2 separate regions of the Homo sapiens genome follow, and region 1 is linked to region 2. The links come from fine-mapping of genetic effects on gene expression. Tissue or cell type: whole blood. Region 2 holds a variant in brackets; the other region holds the start of a gene. All regions are shown on one strand. Distances are from middle to middle.

Region 1 (8,995 bases), 60 kb after region 2:
AGTCTCGCTCTGTCGCCCAGGCTGGAGTGCAGCGGCATGATCTCGGCTCACTGCAAGCTCCGCCTCCCAGGTTCACGCCATTCTCCTGCCTCAGCCTCCCGAGTAGCTGGGACTACAGGCACCCACCACCATGCCCGGCTAATTTTTTCTATTTTTAGTAGAGACGGGTTTCACCGTGTTAGCCAGGATGGTCTCGATCTCCTGACCTCGTGATCCGCCTGCCTCAGCCTCCCAAAGTGCTGTGATTACAGGCGTGAGCCACCACGCCAGGCCCCCTCAGCCCTTTTCAACACTTGGGTCCCCTCTTTCTAATCTTTGCTGCTTTCGAAAGGAAGCGTTTGCATCTTACCTTGCGGCGGGTATGCTCTGAATCCAATGCATCTCTCAGCCCCTGAAAATCTGGGGGATTGAGTGGAGGCCCTGGCCGAAGGCTGGTGTAGCGGGGAAACAGCTCCTCCAGGGCTTGGGCTGAGCTAGATGGAGACAAGTCTTGCAGGGGCCGGGTGCTGAGCAAATCAGGTAGAGAATGTTAGGGCTGGGAAAGCTTTTGGAATCCACTTGTCCAACTGTGATATTCTACAAATGAGGAAACTGAGACCCAGAGAGGGCAAGAGACTTGTCCAAAGTCGTAAAGCTATATAACCATAGTGCTATAAATAACACACAGGTCTGTGATTCACTTAAAGGTTTCAGCAGAAACAAGCTAACTCTTTAGAGGGGAAGAATGACTGCAGGTTAAGAGAAAGCCAGGTACTAGGCAACAGATACCTGTGTTCCTGAAGGAGTAAAGGGGGCAGGAGACAGTAGAAAAAGATGAAAACTGAAAGGCAAGTGATAAGCCTCTTGGGTTCTTAAGAGGTACAAAAGCAATAAAGGGAGAAATAAGGAACAAAACACCTGGATTTCCAAGAAAGCAAACAAGCTAGGAGAACCACAAGGAGAACTCACTTGAGCAAGGTGGCTGTGCTATCACTGTCAAAGGAGTCCTCTTCCCGTCTCTCTGAGCCAGCGCCAGGAATGAGAGGATCCCCTGCAGGCAGCCAGAGGGACCCCAAAGCCAGAGTCAGGTAATGACAAAAACAGGGGCCACCTGAAGAGAAAAGGCCTTCCTTTCCAGTTCCCTCACTCCTTCACCCCCTCTCCCAAAGAACGGGAGACTTTTCTCCTGAAATCTCTTGCTCAGAGGTTTTCCTGCCTGCTTCCTCTGTCCACTTTCTCCCACCCCTTACATCTAGGTTCTCCTTCATAGTTCTAGGGAAGGGGCTTACTCACGATAGGCTGTATCACGTGAGGTTTGGAGCATGGTCTGGAGCTGACCCCGAACACTTTCCATCTCAAAGATATGCTTAGAACCATCCTGGAAAAAAGCCACATGGAAATCAGATGCAGTCTGTGTTATCTATCTCCTACCTATTGCCAGGGTAGAATTTTCACTCCAGCACTTTGGAAAACAAGAAAAACCAAACGGATCCAATAAGGGATGTCCTAAACTTGAATCAGAAATTCAAATACTACAGAAGCCAGAAAGAGAGTGTAAATAAAATAATCGAGGAGGTATAAGACAAGAGTTGCGGAGATTCTTGCCGATTCAAGAACAAATGTAAGGACTGTATGGCTTATGGCTATCATTTTCAAACTCTGGAAGACCTAACCAGTCTGCAAATTGACTCTGACACCTTTTCTATACAATACTAATAACTATCTTCTCTGTAACATGTTGTAGTTGACTAAGCTATGTCTTAATGATGTACATGCCAAAGTTGGAACCATACTATCAACATAGTGTTGAGCTGGAAGGATCGGAGCTGCTATCCTAAGTCCCTAGCTCCCTCTTGGGATCAAGAAACCTTACCCATTCCCAGTGCACGGGAAATAGCTCACCAACCTACCCCATAGGTTTGCTCTATCTACTCGGAGCAGAGATGTCTCTCACAAAAAAACACTGGGAAGTTTCATAATTTTCAAATTATGGTGTCCCAGGTCACTCCCTCCCTTATAAGCATGGCTGCCTATGCAGTTAAAAGGAATATGAAATCCAACAGGAAGAGTTCAAATCTCATCAAAGCTTTTTATTTTTACCAACCCCAATCCCAAGACTCTCTGGTGTCTAGTGCCACAGTGGTCTCCAAGACACACTTCCCTCACCTTTTTCTTCAAGTTCTTTTCCAATCCGACTGACAAGCTTCGACTCAATTCTTGGGCGAAGCCGTCTAACCCTTCATGAGGCGGGGAGGTGGAGGGTAAATACAGCTGGGCTCGGGCCGTGGCCTCCGCCTGCCGGCTGAGGCGCAAAGAAGCATAGAGCTGGGAGGTCACTTCAGACGACACTTGGTTGAGCCCAGGGGGTTCTGATGAATCACTCAGGAGATCCTCCGCCCCGAGGGGTGAACTGGGGCTGTCAGCTGATGTTGCCATGAATACAGGGAAGAGACAACCGGAGACAGCAAAGAGCTGGGAGGTTCTGCTTTAGCAAAGTCCAGGAGGAAAAGTTCACGGAGAAAGACTTGGGAGAAGGGAGGAAGACTCCACGCCAAGGATCCTTGGTGAATTAAGGATATCGAGGCTTTCTGGTTAGAGGAAAGGTTTCCACCAGTTCCAGGGGCCATGGGAGTGGGCAAAAGCATCCCTTTCCCCAGCTCCTGGGAACAGCGTTAAGAGGGTGCAGCGCAGAGCGGGTGCGGACAGAAGACCTACTGTGGGACAACAGCGCTGCTGAAGCTCCTCTTCCCGACTACGAGTGCTGGAAGCTGCAGATCAACTCCGGCACAGGCTATCCCCGGTCAACTGAGCTCTTAAGTTCTCACACCCAAAACGTCCCAACGGAAACGGACCCAAATCCACTAGGAGCCCAATTTCTGTCCCCCTGCCCTACTAGTCCCTCAATTGGTTCCAGTCTCAAGAGAGGGCGGAACCTCACGCTCCCCCATCCCTTCACCCGTTCTACCCAGGGTCAGCTCCAGCTCCCTTGTACTTTCCCTTCGACCCCTCCTGGCAAGAAAGCCATAGCGAGCTTCCTTGTTCCCTAGAATCTCTCCCTCCCGACCACCCCAAAAGAAACCTTGTGAACCCTCAGTCACGCCCTAAGTCGTCCCTAAGAAGCACGCCGCCCTCAAGCCTAGCCCGAGATCCTCTGCCCCGACGACCACCTGGTTCCGCCTACTCTCCACCCTTCCAGTCCTCAGTCCCCAATTTGCCAAAGTGGGGGGCAAGCGATTGACCTCCTCCCCTGAGATCCCCCTCTCACGCCTCCCCCTACGCTCAAAACCGTTGGCAGCCTCCCGCCCACTGTCCACGGCTCCGCCTCTCTCGCCTCGATGACGTCACCCGCCCGCGAGACCACGCTCGCAGACACTCACATCACTTCTGTATCCCGAGCGCCTGGCCGCGCGTGCGCGGCTCCGGTGGCCACAGATTGGCTGAGGGAGGGAGGCGGAGTCTGACAAGCAGCACTGGAGCGGAGTTAATGCCCAGCCGCGGCCGAGCGAGAACCCCCCTAAGGGGCGGAGCTCCGTGGAAACCGGAAGTAACTCTTGACGGGCACTCGGAGCAGTTCCGGTGAGTCCGTGGGTGGGGTCCCCACCTGGTTGGAAGGCTGTGGGTCCGGGAACCCGAGCCCAAGGAGTGGGGGCGGCCCCGGAGCGAGGCTCACACTCCCTGCCCTGCAGATGACTGTCCACAACCTGTACCTGTTTGACCGGAATGGAGTGTGTCTGCACTACAGCGAATGGCACCGCAAGAAGCAAGCAGGGATTCCCAAGGAGGAGGTGACGAGAGGGCCCCGGTGCAGCCCGGGCGACCTCTCATCTCCAAACACCTATAGTCCCAACCCAGCCCCTCCTCTCCAAACCCCAGCTCGTTCCCACCCCCCACCCCATCTCCCGCATCAACCGAGAGCTAACTCTGCCCCTCTCCCTCCAGGAGTATAAGCTGATGTACGGGATGCTCTTCTCTATCCGCTCGTTTGTCAGCAAGATGTCCCCGCTAGACATGTACGCGGAGTCAGAGAAGATGTTGGGAGGAGGGCTAGCCTTGGGAATTTGGGGATGGGGGAAACTTTCTGAAGTGGAAGGAGCATTGGCCTCCAGAGGGGGGAAAGGGTACTTAAGAGAGGCTGAGTCCGGAGCGAGAGTGCTGGAGCTGGCAGGAGTGGGGGTGGGGAGGGTCTGAAAGTAGAGAAGTTGGTGGGGGCTAAATTGAGGGGTGACGATGGGCGATGTCTTTACTCAACCAGGCTTCTACAAAGGATATGTTTAGATAAAGAGGGAGTCGATGTTTGCGGGGATCAGAAGTGTCTCTTTGGGAGAGATTCTGCTCCCATTCTTTAACACCCTCCTCATCTCTGCAGGAAGGATGGCTTCCTGGCCTTCCAAACTAGCCGTTACAAACTCCATTACTACGAGACGCCCACTGGGATCAAAGTTGTCATGAATACTGACTTGGGCGTGGGACCCATCCGAGATGTGCTGCACCACATCTACAGTGCGGTCAGTGCCAGCCCCAGGGACCCATCCCCCAGAGCTCTTCAGAACCCCAAGACTCCCTCATCTCCCCTGCCCCAATCCTACTATATGTTTGCTCAACTCAAGAGTTTTCTCAGGGGCCCTTAGGTTCTTAACTCCCACCACCACTTTCTCCTCAGAGAGGGCTTGCCTTCCAGCCCTTATTCCTTGTGCATTCACACACCCCTGAGGTTATACAAGGTTTGGGGCTAAAAACCAGAAGTATCCAAAGCCTGGCTCTAACATCTTCCCTTTCCATAGCTGTATGTGGAGCTGGTGGTGAAGAATCCCCTGTGCCCGCTGGGCCAAACTGTGCAAAGTGAGCTCTTTCGCTCCCGACTGGACTCCTATGTTCGCTCTCTGCCCTTCTTCTCCGCCCGGGCTGGCTGAAGCAACCTACCTCAAGTCTCAGGAGAATTCATGTCTGCCTGGGGCCCTTCCGAACCTGTGCCAACTAAGGGCCCCCACTGTAAGCCCCCGCACCCCCACCCCCTGCCCAGAGCAACAGCCTAAAGGCCTGCCCTGATGCTCTCCTCCTACCAGAGTGAAGCCCACAGAGTCCCTCCACCTCCACACCAGGCCCTCTCTCCAGTTTTATCCCCTGCCTAATGCTGCGAGAAGCACAGAATAAACTTTTTGTCACTCTCTGCGGCCTGAGCGTGTTGGTTTGAGGGCCCTCTCAGTCCTGCCCCACGCATGAAGGTGGAAAGTAGGGCAGCCACACCCCCTGGAGGGCCACGAAGTGGCTTTGCGGATGGGTTTCTCAACCGTGGGAATATTGATGCTTTGAGCTGGATAATTCTTTATTGTGGGGACCGTCCTGTGCTTTGTAGGATTTTAGCATCCCTGGCCACCACCCACTAGATGCTGATAGCACAGGCATGAAATCAAAAATATCTCCAAACCTTGCCGAAAGTACGCTGGGAGATACATTCCCTCCCGATTGAGAATCACTGGGCCGGGGGAAGCCTGACAGCCCTTGGGTCCCAGAGGGTGCAGGAGCCATCCTCCCCAATTCCGCTCAGAAAATATTCAAGCTGCAGAGCCTTCAGCAGGCGGGGCTTATGCAGATGAGCGGCAGGTTTGGCTGAGAGGAGGGCGGCTCTATGCAGATGAGGAGGCGGTGCCTGCATGCTGATGAGCTGGGCCCGCTGCCGACGCGGCTGGGAGCCCAGCGGGTCCCGCAGCGGTTCGCGCTGAAGTGGCATCTCTCTCCCGCCCCGCTTCCCCCTGGGTCCTTATCCTCCGAGACCTTTACCTCATCCTCGACCTTTACCCTCATCCATTTCCCCCTCCTAATCCTTGCTCCTGTGTCCCCCGTAACTGAATATCTCCACTCCTGGCGCCCCCCACGTTTCTTCCCTCCCGCCGCAAACCTCGCGACCTCCAGCAGCCCGCCCCCGCGGGCCCGATCCTGCCTGGCGGCTCCCGCCGCAGCCTCCTCAGCCTTCCCGCTCTGCCGGGGTTCGCCCCACTACGCCCCCGGTCGTCAGCCCTCGGGCTTCCCTGCTCCCCCCTCCCGTCCCCTCGGAGCCCCCTCCCCCGCCTCGGCCAGCCAGCATGCAGGTGTCTATCGCGTGTACCGAGCAGAACCTTCGCAGCCGGAGCAGTGAGGACCGTCTGTGTGGACCCCGGCCGGGCCCCGGGGGCGGTAATGGTGGGCCGGCCGGCGGGGGGCACGGGAATCCTCCGGGGGGTGGAGGGTCTGGCCCCAAGGCCCGAGCTGCACTGGTTCCCCGACCCCCAGCGCCCGCTGGGGCCCTCCGAGAGAGCACCGGCCGAGGCACTGGCATGAAATACAGGTATGGGGGTGGCCGGGCAGCCCACCCCTTCCGCTTTCCTTTCGGGACCCCTGAGACTGCTTGAGATGGCCGCCAAGACCCCTTCAAACTTCACTAAGTAGGTCTCCCTTCTTTCCATCTCTTCTTTCTGTCTCTGGCACTCCCTCACTTTGTCCCTCTCTTGGTTTCTGTCGATACCCCTGACTACGAGAATCAAGTTTACCAAGGTTGACTGGGTCCTGTCAGACCCAGGGGATGCCCCTGAGCTTCCCTCCTTACCCCTGGGAAGGTCAGGGATGCATGGATCTCCACGCTACACGGATCTCCAGGCTATGCCTCCTCCAGTGGAGTGTCCTTGGGTCCGTGTCCTGGGGAGTGGAGGGAGGGAATCAGCTTCTCACTCTGGCCTGCTCGGGGTGCCTGACCCAGATACTGCCCCTGCCTGCCCCAAAGGCTAGGTCTTCTGCGACCTTTCTTGGGTGCAAGGGGAGTGGGGCCGGTGGGAAGGATGGACCACATTTTTCATCTCCATGCTGAGGGACAGGGTCTGGGTAGACTGAAATGTAACTGACTTTATCTCAGAGGACTGCCAGACCAGAAGCTCAGAACCTGAAGTAGGGGGTAGAGGAGGGGCTCCTGCTTGGGAGTGAGCTGAGGTCACTGATCTGACCTGCTTTGTCACCTGAGGAATCTGATCCCCTCTATATGGTGGCCCTGATTGGAAAGCTGAGCTGACACCTGGGTTGGGGGCTTTGGGAGGATGAGGGGGCTCACTGGTTCAGAGACAGTCTTCACAAGTCAATAGGAACAGAGGGAGTGGAGAGGGAGAACTAGGCTTTTCTGTCTTACTCTCCCCCCTCCCCCCAGGTCCTCAATCTGCCTTTCCTCCAGGCCCATCTGCCTAGCCTAGCCAGGGACCCCTGTCTGTCTGAATGCCTGAACTTGACTTGGTTTACCTCTTCCAACCTGCCATCTACCATTTGGCACAGCACTCTGCCTGAGGGCCTGGTCTCACAAACTCACCACAATCAAACAAAATTCCTCCCAGCCCCTCACTGCACACAACCCACAGATGACTCAAACACAGACAAGACCCCAGAAGAAGGACAAACCAGACTGCACGTCTTCAATGTGATAAGAGGGAATGGAGACTCTGGACAGTGGCTCCAGAGGAACAGTCACATATGGTTCACTTGTCCTTTTGAGAAAATTCCTAGGACCTCTGCTCTGGAGATAGCACTTGCCCAATCTTATAGGCCCACTGGGTCTAATTTCTTTGGACTGAGACACCTGAGGGCTTCTCAGTCTGGAAGGAGAGGAGCTGGGGGCTGATAATCTAAGTCCATAATGGAGGCTCCACCCCTTCCCGCTGCTTCTGTATCTTGCAGGAACCTAGGGAAGTCTGGTCTTCGGGTATCCTGTCTTGGCCTAGGTGAGTCAGAATAGGGATTAAGGAAAGGAGGGCATTCTTTCATGGTCTGCCCCCTGCAGTTCTCATGTGCCTGGCTTCTCTCTTGCAGGTACCTGGGTCACATTTGGTTCTCAGATCTCAGATGAGGTATAAGTTATCGGACCTAGAATCAGGGTGGTGGGGGTGAGGGAACTTGAAAAAAGGGAAGTGAACCTGGATAGGGGTTTGGACAACAAGCACAGGGAATGAGGGATCTGAGGCTGGAGGATGGGGAGAGGGGAGAGACTAGAGAACCCAGGGCTGAGATGTGATGGGTTAGAGTACAGTGAGGGAGGTAACTGAGGAGCAGTAGTTGATCTTTACCTCTTTCACCTCCCTAGACAGCAGAGGATGTGCTGACTGTAGCCTATGAGCATGGTGTAAACCTGTTTGACACCGCCGAAGTGTACGCAGCAGGAAAGTAAGGACTGGGGTGAAAGAGCTAAGCTCCATTTGGAAGGCTGAGAGGACCCCAGGGATTATCTTCTCGTTTTCCCTCTAAAGAACCCTGGGACTTCTGAGAACGTGAAGTTCCAACCTTTTGGCGGAGGGACCCGAAAGCACTGTAGGAGCTACAGTCCCAACATTAGTCCCTCTCTGGCTTAGAAGTCAATGGGCGTACTGTGCAGCTACATTAAATAAAGGCAACAAATATATCTGAGGCATTAGTTATGTGCAACTACAAAGATGAATTTTCAAACACATCATGCCGTTTCACACTAGGAGCAGGGAAAACCTAGGATGACCTACCCTGCCTCTTCCCCATCTAGCAAACACTTCTGCTCATCTTCAAGACTTGACCCGAGTGTCCGCTCCTTCAAGAACTTTGCCCAACTCCCCAGAGTTGGTCACCCCCTCCCCCACCATGAGCTCCTAAAGCACTGTGGACTGCCTTCTGACACGCAATTCGTGGTTTATGCAGCTATATTAGCTGCTCAAGTCAGAGGCCTCCTTCCATGGAACTTGTCTTGCTCTTCCCCAAGTACCCACACAGAGCCTGGCACAGAGCAGGTGCTGCTTCTGGGAAGAATCAACATGTCTGCGAAAGTGCACACAGTCTAAGTGGTTAAAGGAAAAAAAAAGGGCAATAGGAAAGATTAAACAACGGTAAAACATTTCAGTAACAGTCCACCATGACAACTTAAGACTTGTCATAAGTGAGCTCATAATTTTATGCTAAATTATGTAGCCAATTCTGTGGAAGCTGACCAGAAGGCTGGACCATAGATTGTGGCACTCAGAGAACACATTATGGATGAGGCAGA
Region 2 (10,362 bases):
TGGCTCACTGCAACCTCTGCCTCCCGGGTTCAAGCAATTCTCCTGCCTCAGCCTCTCAAGTAGCTGGAACTACAGGTGTGCGCCACCACGCCCAGCTAATTTTTTTTTGTATTTTTAGTAGAGACGGGGTTTCACCATGTTGGCCAGGATGGTCTCGATCTCTTGACCTTGTGATCCACCTGCCTCGGCCTCCTAAAGTGCTGGGATTACAGGTGTGAGCCACCACGCCCAGCCGAAAATAGATAATTTTATGTACTATTTTACAATCTGCTTCCCTCCTTAAAATATTTTATATTTGTTTTATGAAAATATAATACAATTACATCGTTCAAAAATAAAATAAACAAAAAAGAATATACAGTGAAAATGCTCCCTACCACGTGTGTCCCCTGTCAGCCCACTTCCCCCAAAGGGAGAGCCACAGGTAGATTCTCATACGTTTTGTGGCGCTCCTTGGGCATACGCAAGCAATAAGAATCTATTTTCTTCTAGTCCCCTTTTTACATAAAAGATAACACTGTTCTGTACCTTGCTATTTTATTTCAACAATATCTTGGAGGTCTTGTTTCTTGTTTCATAGAGAGCTGATCATAGCTGCATAGATTCCATTGAATCGCAGAACTGTAACCTGGTTACTCTTTGCTATTGCTGCTCCGATGAATACCTTGTACAAGCCTCACTTTGCATATATCTAAGTACATCTACAGGCAAATTGCCTGTGTAAATGCACTGTAATTTGGAGAGATGTTGCCAAATTGTCCCCTCTAGGGATTATGCCAATTTACACTAGTACCAGCAATGACTTAGAGTGTCTTGTTGCCCACAGCCTGGATTCAGAGTGTGTTTTTAATTTCTCCAATTTGATATTTGAAAAAGAAAAATGGCATCCAAGGGAAAAAAAAGTATCATGGTATAGTTTAAATTTGTGTTTCTCTTCTGAGTGAGGCTGAACATATTTTCATGTTTACAGGCCTTTTGCATATCTTTTTTGAGAACTGTCTGTTTATATCTTTTGCTCACTTTTCTATTGGGTTATTGGTCTTTTTCTTATCATTTTTTAGATCTCTTTATATGTTAGGAGAATACACATTTGTAATATGATTTGAAAAAAAAATCCCAGTTGATGTGTCTACTCTTTGCTTATAATGTGAGTGTGTTTTTGCCAAGTACATTTTCAAATGCAGTCTTTTAAAATTTTTAAATGCCGTTTGGATTTTAAATCACTATCAGAAAAGCAAAGGCTACAAACACATTCTCCAATGTTTTCTTCATTCTTCAAGGACTTACAGTTTCACGTTTACATTTAAATCTGTGACCCCTTTGGAATTTATCCTGATGTGAGGAGTAAGGTGTGGATCCAATTTTATTTTCATCTGCCTGGTTCCCAGCTGTCCCATTACCATTCACTGAATAATTCATTTCTCCTCATATCATCATAAAGAACAATCCTGAATGTATCTGCATGTATTTCTGGATTTTCTGTTCTGTTCCCTTGGTCAGTCTGTCTAATATGAACCACTACTATACTACTTTCATTACTGAAGTATTATAATATTTTTAATTAATTTACAGAGCTACTCTCCGTCCTCTGCCTCATTGCTCCTCCTTTCCAGAATTTTCCTGATAATTCTTATGCATTAATTTTTTATATTGTCTTTTTAATCATCTTCCTAATTTTTAAAAAGTCATTGGCACTTTCTTTGTTATTGTGTTAAACTTATAAATTAATTTATGGAAGATTTACATTTTAGGATGTTGAGTCTTTCTGGGCAAGACTACTATTTGTTGAAGCCTACTTTTGTACCCTTCTGTAGTGTTTTTACCTTTTCTTTAAGTGAGTTTGATGTATTTCTTGTTACTCTTTTCTTTTTTATCATTGTATTTTTCTTTTCTTTTTTTTTCTTTTATTTCCAAATCCCCAGAACCTGTGAACTGTGTTAAGTTTATTAAAAAGCATTTTATCTTTTATATTGCTCTTGTAGGTCCTTTTCTTCTATTATATCTTCTAACTGGTTGTCGAGTATTAGTTTCTATTTTTCCCTTTATTACATGTCTTGGACGTTTTCCATGTTCTTAGATATAGATTTACTTCATTTTATTCAATAATGTTTCGCCATTTGAATGTAAGGATCTTGAGATGGAAAGATTATCCTGGATTATCTGGGTGGGCCCTCAATGTAATCACAAGCGTCCTTATAAGAGGGAGATTCGACACACAAAGCAAAGCAACACTGAAGCAGGATGCTGCGCTGCTGGAGGACAGGAGCCAAGGGACGCAAGAAATGTGACTCCGGGAAATGGATGGGAAATGGATTCTGCAGAGACAGCAAGGCCCCGCCAACAACCGGATTTGGGCCCAGTGAAACTGAATTCGGACTTCTGACTTCCAGAACTGTAAGAGAGTAAACGTGTGTTGTTTCAGCCACCAAGTTTGTGGTAATCCGTCACAGCAGTCAGGGCCAATGGATACGCGGGTCTTTCATCCCTTTCGTGTATGCTGCATGGTACACCTAAAAACGCAGGCTCGGCCGGGCGGGGAGGCTGTTGCCTATAATCCCAGCACTTTGAGAGGCCGAGGCGGGCGGATCACGAGGTGAAGAGATCGAGACCATCTTGGCTAACACGGTGAAATCACGTCTCTACTAAAAATACAAACAATTAGCCGGGCGTGGTGGCATGTGCCTGTAGTCCCAGCTACTGGGGAGGCTGAGGCAGGAGAATCCCTTGAACCCGGGAAGCAGAGGTTGCAGTGAGCCGACATCGTGCCACTGCACTCCAGCCTGGGCAACAAGAGCGAAACTCCATCTCAAAACGAAGACAAAACAAACAAAAAAACGCAGACTCGGGCCTGATAGGAGAGTGGGAACCACAGACTATCAGGAAGGTTCTCTTCCCAAAGAGGGTAAATCTGTCATCAAATGTATTTAATATAAAGTCCCCAATAATACAGTACATTTTAGGCTCAACTTCCAATGATGCATTCCCAGGATTTTGTGTATTTTGTTTCTTTCCTTAACAACTAGAACGCAGTCTGCCAGGTCCTTTAGCTTAAAGCCAGTGAACACCCTGTTGTAGGTAAATCTTTTCTATTTGTCTCAATTATATGAAGTCTTAATAGTTATGCTTTCAGTATTCCCATTTCTCATAAGATAAATATTCCAAAAAAATGGTAAGAAGCCTTGCTCTACAGATGAGGATGTAACCACAATGGAAAGTGAGGCTGGCTGACAGGACCACTGTGTGATCCCTCCAAATAAGTATTTATCAGCATATGTTCAAAAACCTGAAGTCACCATGGAATGTAGCTATGAGATTTTACAGTTGAATGTAGTAAAGTTAAGGAACCTGAAGAAGGTTCCACGATTGGGGATGACATCCAAGTAGCAGTGATATAGGAGGCAGGACTTGACTCCAGAGGTGGGGCTTGGACTCTGGACCAGATTGAAGACTAGCTGAAACACGGAAGAGGTGAGAACACCACTCCATAAGACACGCCCACCAGTGCCATGTCAGTTTACCATTGCCATGGCAACACCCAGAAGTTACTACCCCTTTCCATGGCAACAACTCAACAACCCAGAAGTTACCAACCTTTTTCTAGAAATTGTTGCATATCCACCCCTTGCCACCAGCTTGCCCTTGAATTCTTTCTTGGGTGAAGCCAAGAACCCTCCCTGGCTAAGCCTCAATTTTGGGGCTCACCTGCCCTGCATCAGTGGAACCAGTGACAGTCACAGAGGACAGCCTACACCAAAGCTTGCATTGGCAAATTCTGGGTCTTTCCTGTTCATCCAGGTTTTCCATGGGTCCACACAGTGGAGCTGGGCATGTAAGGTGCTCAGGGAGTGCTAGTGGAATGTTACGATGCCACATTCCAGGGAAGCTCTTGACCACCCCACAGAGCTGGGATGATCTCATTTTTAATCCAGAACAGGTACCCTGAGAGCTGCAGAAAGTTGGTGAATCACCTGTGGAGACTCAGCTGCCTCTGGACCCAACTTGGATGCAGAAGTGCTAGACCTTGAGTTGATGCCATAATGGGAAGAGCCTTGTGTTTTCATGTGGTTGGAATGTGAGTTGTGGTCAGAGGGCAGGCTGTGGCGTATTGTATTTTCTAAAGATGGCCACAACAGGCTGGGTGCAGTGGCTCATGCCTGTAATCCCAGCACTTTGGGAGGCCGAAGTGGGTGGATCACAAGGTCAGGAGATCGAGACCATCCTGGCCAACATGGTGAAATCCCATTTCTACTAAAATACAAAAAATTAGCCGGGCGTGGTGGCCTGCACCTGTAGTCCCAGCTACAGTCCTTGTCATCTAGGTTAAACTGGCTACACCCTCAGCCTGGTGTGAGCCAGGCCCTGCCAATCCATCACCTTGCCTGGTGACTGTGATGGGCTCGGGAGTGGACATCCGACCAAAAGCAGGCCAGTTAGTCAAGAGACTCAATTCTTGGCCGGGTGCAGTGGCTCATACCTGTAATCCCAGCACTTCGGGAGGCCTAGGCGGGTGGATCACCTGAGGCCAGAAGTTCAAGACCAGCCTGGTCAACATGGTGAAACTCCATCTCTACTAAAAATACAAAAAATCAGCCGGGCATTGTGGCGGGTGCCTGTAGTCCCAGCTACTCAGGAGGCTGAGGCGGGAGAATCCCTTGAACCTGGGAGGCGGAGGTTGCAGTGAGCCAAGATCCTGCCATTGCACTCCAGCCTGGACAAAGGAGTGAAACTCCGTCTCAAAAAAATAAATAAATAAATAAAAAGAGACTCAATTCTTGGATTTTTGTGGAAGCCATTAGGTAAGTGGGGTCTTTGCTGGTTGGATTTAAGTCTGGGAGGATGAAGGACAGCACTGTTGCAGCCGTTTTGCCACAATGAGGGGAGGGCCTTTGGGAGGATAAAGCCCAGCATAGAAGAGAGCAAAGCCTGAGGCCTGCGGCGTCTATGCCTGAATCCAGCTGTGCCTGAAGGTAGCGCTGTAGCTCAGGTTTCCAGTTACAAGAACCCATTCAACCTTTCTGCCTTAGCCTGGTTAGCATTGTGGTCCTACTGAACGTACCATTCAGGAGAATCACGTTTAAAAGTGGCACAAGACAAAGACATGAATCTGAATACCTTCAGACTGGGATTACAGGCACGTGCTAATTTTTGTATTTTTAGTAGAGACGGGGTTTCGCCATATTGGCCAGGCTGGTCTCGAACTCCTGACCTCAGGTGATCCACCCGCCTCGGCCTCCCAGAGTGCTCGGATTACAGCCGTGAGCCACCGCGCCCGGCCTCATTTTAGCCATTTTTAAGTGTACAGTTTAGTGGCATTAAGTACAGCCAAAATTTTTGTGTAACCATCACCACTACACCTGAAACTCTTCACCATCTCCAACAAAAGCTCTGTACCCATTAAACAACGACGGCCCCTCTAGTCTACTTTCTCCTGTATGAATTTACCTATTCTAAGTACCTCGTAGAGGTGGAATCATACAGGATTTGTCCTTCCGTATTTGGCTTATTTCACTCAGGGTAATGTTTTCAGGGTCCACCCACATTATAGCATGTGTAAGAATTTCATTCCTGTTAGAGGCTGAATAATACTCCATTGCATGGATGTACCACATTTTGGACACCAAGTTTTTTATTGTGAATGCAAGATTCTGGCATTAATGTTATTGAGGGTATTAATTTGAATATTTTAAGTACATTCTTGTACTTATAATTCGTGTACTCCATTCCGTTTGTTTGTTTGTTTGTTTGTTTTTTGTTTTTGAGACGGAGTCTCGCTCTGCCGCCCAGGCTGGAGTGCAGTGGCGCTATCTCGGCTCACTGCAAGCTCCGCCTCCCGGGTTCACGCCATTCTCCTGCCTCAGCCTCCCGAGTAGCTGGGACTACAGGCGCCCGCCACCAAGCCCGGCTCATTTTTTGTATTTTTAGTAGAGACGGGGTTTCACCGTGTTCGCCAGGATGCTCTCGATCTCTTGACCTCGTGATCCGCCCGCCTCGGCCTCCCAAAGTGCTGGGATTACAGGCGTTAGCCACCGCGCCCGGCCCGTGTACTCTATTCTTTAGCGGATTGCCCTTCTTTAACCACCTTTTTCAGGAGGCGGTAGGGCCTTACTTCGGGGTGATTGTCCGTTGACTCTTCACCCTGGGGAGTGGAGCTGGAGGCTGACGCGCTTGGAGGCTGGTGTGGGCTCCCTGGTCGTCCGCATGGATCATCTTTTGCTGCCTCCCCTCTCCTCTTCCGCCGACCCCCTCAGCTACCCCGTCTTGGTGCTAAGTGGATGCAGA[T/G]GAGACAACGGGCACGTTTCCCTGCAGGGACCGGCTTAGCCGCCAGGGGGAGCCCCAAGGATAAGGCGCGAGGCGGCCGGGGCTCAGGTTGCGCAGGCACCGAGGGCACCTGGGCTCTTCCGCCCCCTGCTCTGTGAAGGCCAGGGTGCGGCAGGGCCACCCTCCCCGGAGTCTCTCTTCTTCTGGCCGCAGCGGGTAGACCGCAGAGTGGTCCGGGTGCAGCGGCGCCCGGGCAGCTGCGGAAGTGGCAGGGTTGGGGTGGCGGCTGGAGCGCCACGCGCGTTCCCTCTCCCGCTTCCGCACCCGCTTCTGCACCAGCCTCGGGCAGTCAGTCCCCCGGTGGTTTAGTGATGGAGGAAGCGAGGCGCGATCGGGCGGCGCTGGACATTCCTCAGCCCTGAAACCCTGATGCCCGGGGCCCGCTGCTTAGAGCTGGGGCTGGGCGGAGCTCTACTGGGGAGACCTTTCCACCTTCCTTTAGGGAGCCCCTCCTTTGCGCTGGGTGCTCAGCTCAGCACTGCGTGACTTTGCTCTCAACGAAGAACACATTTCCTCAAATTCCTCAGATTTTCAGTTCTGTTAGTAACATTCTCTCCAGCTTTATCATTTGCTGGAACAGATTTTTTTTTTTCCGAGACCGAGTTTCGCTCTTGTTACCCATGCTGGAGTGCAATAGCGCGATTTCGGCTCACTGCAACCTCCGCCATGCGCTAGCATGCCCGGCTAATTTTGCATTTTTTTTTTTCAGTAGAGACGAGGTTTCACCATGTTGGTCAGGCTGGTCTCGAACTCCTGACCTCAGGTGATCACCCACCTCGGCCTCCCAAAGTGCTGGGATTACAGGCGTGAGCCACCGCTCCAGGTCGGAACAGTTCATTTTTTAAACTGTCATACAATTACTTCTTTCTGATCATTTCCATGACGTGTGGGGAGAAAAGAGACAATTGTGGGGTACAATCCTTGAAACCAGAAATCAATGAAGTTATACTTGACCGGATTTTAACATTCTTCCGCATTATGGTTTTGTGTTTCCTCCTTTCTTCTTGTCTCTTTTTTGATAATTATAAACATTGATTCCTGGCTGGGCACAGTGGTTCCTGCCTGTAATCACCAGCATTTTGGGAGGCCAAGGCGGGAGGATCATTGAACCCAGGAGGTCGAGACGGCAGTGAACCTGATCACACCACTGCACTCCAGCCTGAGCAATAGAGCGAGACCCTATCTCAAAAAGAAAAAAAAAAGAGTCCTAATGATCTAGCACATTCTACATTCACTGCTTGATTCTGGGACATGTTTCGTTGGGGATTATAGTTCTGAATTACAAAGTATTACCGGAATGGGCTGTGATCAGGATTATAAATAGCAGCAATTACATGCTTTTTGAACTAGAAAAGATGTTCTAAATTGACCTAGATATATACAGACTATTGGGACACGTGGTGGATAAAAATTAAGGCCTAGTAGCTGGACTCTAAAAAACAATGTTTTCCACCAGGGGGAGCTGTAGACTATGTCTGAAGGTATTCAGATTCATGTCTTTGTCTTGTGCCACTTTTAAACGTGATTCTCCTGAATGGTACGTTCAGTGGGACCACAATACTAACCAGGCTAAGGCAGAAAGGTTGAATGGGTTCTTGTAACTGGAAACCTGAGCTACAGCGCTACCTTCAGGCACAGCTGGATTCAGGCATAGATGCCGCAGGCCTCAGGCTTTGCTCTCTTCTATGCTGGGCTTTATCCTCCCAAAGGCCCTCCCCTCATTGTGGCAAAACGGCTGCAACAGTGCTGTCCTTCATCCTCCCAGACTTAAATCCAACCAGCAAAGACCCCACTTACCTAATGGCTTCCACAAAAATCCAAGAGTCTCTTGACTAACTGGCCTGCCTTTGGTCGGATGTCCACTCCCGAGTCCATCTCAGTCACCAGGCAAGGTGATGGATTGGCAGGGCCTGGCTCACACCAGGCTGAGGGTGTAGCCAGTTTAACCTAGATGACAAGGACTGAGGGGGACAGGGAGAGGTCTAGAGGCAAAATCAGGCTCTGCTGCTGGAAGTGGGTGAATGGGTGCTGGTGCTGCCCTCAGAAAACATACAGAGAAGGAGGCCGGGTGTGGAGGCTCACACCTGTAATCTCCGCGCTTTGGGAGACTGAGGTGGGCAGATCATCTGAGGTCGGGAGTTTGAGTTCAGCCTGGACAACATGGTGAAACCCCATCTCTACTAAAAATTAGCCAGGTGTGGTGCAGGTGCCTGTAATCCCAGCTACCCAGGAGGCTGAGGCAGGAGAATCGCTTGAACCTGGGAGGCGGAGATTGCAGTGAGCTGAGATCGTGCCATTGTACTCCAGCCTGGGCGACAGAGCGAGACTCTGTCTCCAAATAGAATAAAATAAAGTAAAATAAACCGTACAGAGAAGGAGAAGGTGACAACGTAAGGCAGATGGAATGCACCATCGGGAGGTGGGGGCGCGACAAGGGATGCAGAGCATAGACTACGGGATCAGCTCCACACAGGAGAAGGGACCTCTTAGCTGGCCGTTGTGCTGGGTAGGCAGCCTGAATTAGTGACTTCAGAGGGGAGGCAGCTCTGGGAGATGACACAGTGGGGGTTTGGTCCTGTGACGTCATGGCTGAAGGAGGTAGAGGAGAAGCATGTGACACGAGGAGTTCGGGGCGCTCAGAGGCCAAGCTGATGGCTGGATTGATCTTGGGGATGGTGAAGTCACCAGAATGAGAAGACTGGGAGCTGATGGAGAAGAGGGTGTGCCCACTGCTCAGTGAATGATGGCATTCACCAGGGATGGGGGCGGGGTGGAAGAGGTGAGTGGCATGGCCCTCAAGGAACCACTGGGAATGAGGACACTGACCCCAAACCTCTCAACTCTGGGGTGTGTGGCGTCTGGGAGGAGCCTGTGAGCAGAGCCAGATCTTGAGTAAAGAAGGAGGTGGAGGGAGAATCCTGTGAATAGGATGTTAAGAATGCAGGAGAAACTGAATTAAACAGGACGGATTAAGCAGATCTATTTATCTCTTCACCCTCCCCAAACCCCACTAAAATTACAATAAAGGGATAAAAAAGGCATAAACCCACAAGGACAAGAAGAGCGGGGGAGGAAATGAGCACAGACAGGAGAACTCAGCATTCTGGAAAGCAGGGGGAGAGTGGAGAGTGATGACTGACTTGGCAGAGCAGAGGGAGCTCAAATCCAAGCGCTGGCGGGTGGGGGTGGACATCAAAAACCAGCAGAATCCGGGAAGCCTGAGGGATTGGAAATATCAGGTGTTTTGTCTATTTACTGGTAGGAAATAAAATACTCCCCAATGTTGCATGGCTTGAAGCAATGCCAGTTGTAACTTCATGATTCTGTGGACCCAGTGGCTTCACCAGGCGGCCCTGCTCCACGTGATGCTGGCCGGGGTATGGGGCTGGTAGCTGGTGTTGCTATCCTCCAGCAAGTTGGTGAGGGCTGTGAGTTGAGGACCTCTGTACTTCTCTATGTAGTGATTCCATGGCTTGGGCTTCTCAGAGCATGGTAGCATAGAAATTAGCTTTGGTTAGTTAAATCCAGTTCTTCCTTAGGGCCATTTTCCCAATACATTTGATCATCAATATCAGTATTATCACATGACCTGTTTATGTAAGATAGTTGAATCTTAGCAACAAGGTGAGTGTTAACGCTATATCACAATATGGCTGTAGATATAACCTGAAAAATAATAGTCAAAAGATAATGGCATATTACCAGAGTCTTAGACATTAACAGGGAGTCCCGTCCATCTGGAGTAATCATAGCATATGACCAGAATGTCTCCCAGAGCGATGCCACTAGGGCTTGCAGACTTCCTTTTGGCTTTGTCAGGTTTCAAAAGCAGGAGTGATCTTGGCATTAGATGGCTTCACCCTTTCAGACATCCTGTATAATTTCTTTTTTTTTTGAGATGGAGTTTTGATTCTCCTGCCTCAGCCTCCCGAGTAGCTGGGATTACAGGCACCCGCCGCCACCACACCCGTCTAATTTTTGTATTTTTAGTAGAGACGGGGTTTCACCATGTTGGCCAGGCTGATCTCGAACTCCTGACCTCAG

Evidence for each region. PIP is the estimated chance that this variant, and not a neighbour inherited with it, causes the effect.
Region 1: it holds the start of CNTROB, and the variant in region 2 is fine-mapped to the expression of CNTROB in whole blood (INTERVAL, PIP 0.99).

What each region holds. Positions count from the first base shown.
Region 1 is chr17:7,926,500-7,935,494 of GRCh38, reverse strand. It overlaps CNTROB (centrobin, centriole duplication and spindle assembly protein), which reads right to left and starts at 3,289. Exons shown (of 19, transcript NM_053051.5): 1 at 2,146-3,289; 2 at 1,273-1,357; 3 at 949-1,030; 4 at 350-506. The coding sequence starts at 2,415. KCNAB3 (potassium voltage-gated channel subfamily A regulatory beta subunit 3) reads left to right here and starts at 5,639. Exons shown (of 14, transcript NM_004732.4): 1 at 5,639-6,301; 2 at 7,669-7,712; 3 at 7,801-7,838; 4 at 8,072-8,151. The coding sequence starts at 6,060. TRAPPC1 (trafficking protein particle complex subunit 1) reads left to right here and starts at 3,549. Exons shown (of 4, transcript NM_021210.5): 1 at 3,549-3,764; 2 at 3,919-3,989; 3 at 4,346-4,484; 4 at 4,761-5,146. The coding sequence starts at 3,666. The coding sequence ends at 4,889. RefSeq lists a silencer at 2,241-2,418 and enhancers at 2,346-2,475, 2,606-2,895, 2,926-2,985, 3,206-3,255, 3,596-3,835.
Region 2 is chr17:7,986,310-7,996,671 of GRCh38, reverse strand. No RefSeq gene overlaps it. Among named protein-coding and RNA genes, the nearest start is that of GUCY2D, 11 kb to the left of the region's middle. The variant T/G (reference allele first, on the strand shown) is at 6,280.